2 separate regions of the Homo sapiens genome follow, and region 2 is linked to region 1. The links come from fine-mapping of genetic effects on gene expression. Tissue or cell type: whole blood. Region 1 holds a variant in brackets; the other region holds the start of a gene. All regions are shown on one strand. Distances are between the middles of the regions.

Evidence for each region. PIP is the estimated chance that this variant, and not a neighbour inherited with it, causes the effect.
Region 2: it holds the start of GCLM, and the variant in region 1 is fine-mapped to the expression of GCLM in whole blood (TOPMed, PIP above 0.99).

Annotation. Positions count from the first base shown.
Region 1 is chr1:94,041,369-94,043,868 of GRCh38, forward strand. It overlaps ABCA4 (ATP binding cassette subfamily A member 4), which reads right to left. Exons shown (of 50, transcript NM_000350.3): 21 at 1,968-2,107; 22 at 1,393-1,530; 23 at 1-34. Among named protein-coding and RNA genes, the nearest start is that of ABCA4, 79 kb to the right of the region's middle. The variant A/T (reference allele first, on the strand shown) is at 1,268.
Region 2 is chr1:93,907,880-93,910,503 of GRCh38, forward strand. GCLM (glutamate-cysteine ligase modifier subunit) reads right to left here and starts at 1,551. Exons shown (of 7, transcript NM_002061.4): 1 at 1,159-1,551. The coding sequence starts at 1,284. LOC124904221 (a long non-coding RNA gene) reads left to right here and starts at 1,713. Exons shown (of 2, transcript XR_007066230.1): 1 at 1,713-2,275. RefSeq lists silencers at 965-1,014, 1,065-1,424, 1,635-1,874 and an enhancer at 1,915-2,074.

The DNA.
Region 1 (2,500 bases):
TCCATGTGGTGAGTGGACATGATGATGGTTCTGCCTGCAAGGTAGGGGCCAGGGCAATCACCAGGCCTGCCCTGGGTTGGGCATTGTTGGTAAAGGGTGTACAGCAATTTCCTGGCTATATAGTTGCAAAAATCAGGAGTTAACTAAAAAAAAAAACCCAAGGGAACTAATTCAGCAGCAAATTCCAGCATATTAGGACAATAATAACTAACATTTCATAGCTTCCTACATACTGTAAAGCATTGCCACACACAGTGTCTCTGTATCCAGCATAGGATCTGATTCAAATAAATCTCTATATTAGGGGCTCATGTATTATGGTCAGCATCTAGGGAGTTTCATATGTACATTTTCTGGATCATTAAGCTCTGGATTTATACTCTTCATAAAGAACACACACGTGCATACTCTCACTAACTGGAGATGTCATTAACAGAAAACAGCAGGCCGGGCACGGTGGCTCATGCCTGTAATCCCAGCACTTTGGGAGGACAAGGCGGGAGGATCACCTGAGGTCGGGAGATCGAGACCATCCTGGCTAACACGGTGAAACCCCGTCTCTACTAAAAATACAAAAACAATTAGCTAGGCGTGGTGGCGGGCACCTGTAGTCCCAGCTACTCAGGAGGCTGAGGCAGGAGAATGGCTCGAACCCAGGAGGCGGAGCTTGCAGTGAGTGGAGATTGCGCCACTGCACTCCAGCCTGCGCGACAGAGCGAGATTCTGTCTCAAAAAAAAAAAAAAAAAAAAAAGAAAAGAAAGAAAGAAAATAGCAATGAGGATTTCAGGATGACAAACCCTCAGAGAAAGGCACGGGGCAACGCTGTGTGAGTAGAGCAAGGGGGAAAGCTCTGGCTTGACCACGGGGTTGAACCGTGCTGTTACCTCTATGGGCACTCAGCTCTGCTTGCTGTCTCTTCTGATCTGAGCCCCTTGTCTGAGAGGTGCCATGACAGAGGAGCCACTTCCATCTGTGGCCACCCTCTGGAGCACTGAATGCCCAGCAGGTCACCCTCACACTGGTCCTGAGTGGTCATCTGACAGCTATGGAGCTTCTAGGTATGTTTGCAGGTGACCTGGGTCCCCATGGTCAGAGAAGACATTCACCTAGAGTAGCATCCATTATTCCAGACAGAAGGGCTGCAGGTCAAGAGAATTTTCTAAAATATTTTGGGAAGTAGGTTGCATCATCAGTGATTCTCTGTTTATATTTGTAAAAACCTCAGGAGGCTTTAGCTGGAACTTAGATTCACCAAGTCACTGATAA[A/T]CCCCCTTCTGAGTGTAGTCATTGTGGTTCCTGTACTCAGCTACAAAATGGCAGGTGAGAGAGTGGGGACCACAGCTAGGGCTGCAGTGAGAGCCCAGCCCAGGAGACTGAGCAGCAGCTGTTACCTGAGCGATACTTCAGGAGCAGATCCCAGATTGAGCGTCTCGAGTAAGGGTCCACCCCAGAGGTGGGTTCGTCCAGAATCACCACCTTGGCATCTCCCACAAAGGCAATGGCAACCGACAGCTTTCTCTGCATGCCACCTGGAGGCACAAGAAGGACGGGAGAGTTAAGGGGCTGTGGAGGGTGAGGAAGAGAAAGGCCCAGGGCAAGTGGCATTGTGGGGGTACCTTAACCCAGCAGTGGTTTGGTGCTGCCTCTTAGATGTTTATAGCGTTCAAAGCCCTAATACTGTTCAGGCTTTGTAAATGCAGAAAGGGCAACCCTCACCTCCTCGGATCAGACCCTTTGAAGACTGTTCAAGCACATCAATCTCAGGACAAATAAAACCCAGGCTGCTGTGAGACAGTGCTCTGCAGGGAAAATGATCTGGGGGCTGCTCTTAGATTTTTGGTGTAACTTCACAGAGGTGTTCCCACCCTTAGAAGCTCTCCTGCTCCAAGCCTCCCCTGCCTCCTGGGTGCACTGGGGAGCCATGGATTTGCCATCTGTGGCCCTGTCTCCATCCAGCTCTGAGCACCTGATAGGTCCTGAGCCTCTTCATTCCGCTTGTGGTGGAGGCCTGTGTCCTCCAACATGGCTTCCATCTCCAGCTGGGCCTCCTCCTGGGACTTTCCTTTCAGCTGGGCATAGAACAGCATGTGCTCAGCCACCGTGAGGCTAGGAGGATGGGACAACGAGAAAAGCAGTGGCTTAGCACTTCCACTTCCAGCAGCTGATCTTACAGAAATAATTGAGGACAAGTATTCTTGATTTGGCAATCAAGATGCTCACTGTGGTGGTGTTTATGATACAATACAAAAATAGCAGACCCTGCTTAAATATCTAATAAGAGGATGGCTTACATAGTTCATGCATACAATGGAATAATCTGTAAACATTAAATATTATTTTATAGAAGAATATGTAATGACATGAAAGATGTTCCTGATATCTTATGTTTAAAAAAGCAATCCTTTTTTTTGAAAAAAAAGTCAGGTTATAAAATTGTATGCATAGTTTTACTATTCTTTATCATTTTGAAGTATATGTGTTTATCTATCTATACATGTA
Region 2 (2,624 bases), 130 kb before region 1:
TGTGCTGCTGCATGGTCTGTTACCAACATCTCATAGAAGAGAGCAGAAACCACTTAGGAACACAGCTGATTTAGGAAGGTTTTTCTAAACACACATAGTTTAGGAAGGTTTTTCTCTTAATTAAGATTTATCTTTCTGATGGAACCAGATGACAGGGAGATAGATGCCTGCATGGTGAGCGTTTTCATATATTACCTCTTAATTCTCACAACAACCTGATGAGGAAGGTGTTATTATCCAACTTTAAAGTAATTTTCCAAAGTCATATAGCTCCTAAATCTAAAGATTTTGTTATTTTTTAAATACTAAAATTGTCCCATACCACCAATATGCACAATGTGCAGTGGATGACTATCCGCTCAGAAATGGCCAACAAATAGGTAACAAGTTTGTAATTCCAGATTAATCTCTGTCACCTCCAACTAGTGACTAGTCTTTTTATTTTCCAGTTTTTACAAAACTTTAATTTTTGAATTGATAGATTATATTTGTACATATTTATGGGGCACATGTGATATTCTGTTACATGCATAGAATGTACAATGATATTGTTACATGCATAGAATGTGTACTGATAAAGCATACATAGACGCACAGATAAGTGCATAAAATGTGTAATGACTAAAGTCAGGGTATTTAGGGTATTCCAAAGCCAAAATTGAGTGCTTACTCATTTGCCTCACTGCAATAGAGAGTCTAATGTCAACATTCTAAAAGTTAGGTGTACTATGAATACTACTTCATCTGAATGCACCAAAGGATAATCTCCGAAAATATTCCTTTACCTGGACAGGGTGGGGGAAGGAAGCGAGAGATGTGGAGAGAGACGGAGCGACGTCCTGGCCCTCTGTGACCTCCGTGCCAGGAAGAGGGACCCAGGATGTTTGAGAGTTTTGCTACCAGCCTTAAGCACCGAGAGAGGTGTCACTCAGTGCGCAGCTGCACCGGCTAAGTTTTTTAGACGCGTTGCCCTCGGCAGCGGGTTTGGACCCAAGGTCGCGTCGACACTGGCCTCAGCATCTGACCGCGGGCGGAGCCCAGGTGCGCGCGAGGCCCTGCCACCCTCCCTCGCCCGCGGGCGCTTCTCCCTTGCCGGAACCGCCCGGCCCCGCCCGAGGCCTGCCCCGGGAGCCCCGCGGCGAGTGTCGCCACGCTCACCTCCTCGCTGTGCGTGGACGGGCACTTCTTCCGCAGGCGGCCCCAGTTCAGCAGGTTCCCCGTCTGCAGGTGCAGGGTGCGGGCCCGCGCCAGGAGCGCCTTGGCCGCGCGGCTGTCGGTGCCCATGGCAGCGGCCGCCCAGGGGCCGCGCAGCGAAGGGGCTGCGGGCGGGCGGGCAGGCAGGCGGCCGCCCCACAGGACGCGGTGCCCGAGGCCCGAGAGAGACCCGAGAGGGAGCGCGAGGCTGCCGGCGCCGCGCGGCTGGAGCCTGGTCTGCGCTCGGGCCCGAGGGAGGCCGGACGGCGGCTGGGCGGCGGCGGGAAAGGAAGGCACCGGTGGCTGCGGCTCCGGCTCCGGCTACTGCGGCCGCAGCGGGAGAGCTGATTCCAAACTGAGGGAGCTGTTTCCTGGAAGACAATGACTAAGCAGAAATCGTAGCCGAGAAAGTGCTTCGTAACCGTTACTCATCCCGCGGCGGGGCAGGGGCGGGGCGCGAATGGGCTGCGGGACGCCGGCCCGCAAGTGACTGGCCCTTGGCCTGCGGCGGGCGTGGCGACGGGTGGTGCGCGGCGGGCGCGCGGGTCGAGAGAGCGTGGCGGCGCGGCCCGGAGCGCAGCGCGCGGCAGGGCTCCCCCTGGCGGTCAGAGGACAGCGCGAGGCAGACACCGCCTCCGCCTGGTGAGGTAGACACCGCCTCCGCCTGGTGAGGTCTCCCGGCGTTCAGGTCGCGGCTCCGCCCACGGCCGCCCCAGGGTGGGCTTCCTACACGTCTCTTTAAAGGGCAGCCTGAGCGGCCACCGGGACTCGGAAATGCTACGTAGTTTTCGTTCTCAGAAGCAGCTGTTTATGCGCAAGCGCCCCCTTCTTCTTTTCGCTTTGCTACCTTCAAGGACCTTCTCCCAAACTGCTAATTTTTCTTCATCCGTTAAAGGTCTATTGATTCACATTATTTGCTGGCAGTGTGTGAAGTCAACGAACAAGACTGAGTCTTTGCCCTTGAGACGCGTACACTCTACCCAGAGACAAGTTCTAAGCACAGGAAACAAGTAATTTTATAAGAACATCATAGGGCAGTTATTCTCCAGATGAATTCAGATTAAAGAGGACACTTGAGCCGGTGAGATCACAGAAAGCTTTTATCACCCACCCCTTTAGAGGTGGTCGAGATTATTTACCCCTATTAAATTTCACGTGTGGTGGTGGACTCGGTATAAACATCAAATTGAACATGTATTGAGCTTTCCTCAACAATCTTTCACATTCGTTGAGGTGAATCAGATTATTAAAGGCAAAATGAGATTCTCATTATAAGCGGGGACAATATAGCTATTGAAAAGAGAGATGAACCAGTTGGTAAAATGGTAAGAATTAGGGGAGGGATGGGAAAAAAGATCTTTCTAGGAAGTTAGAAATTGAGCCTGATGTTGAGTAAATATTTGTTGGCTGAATGAATGATGGTAAGAGTT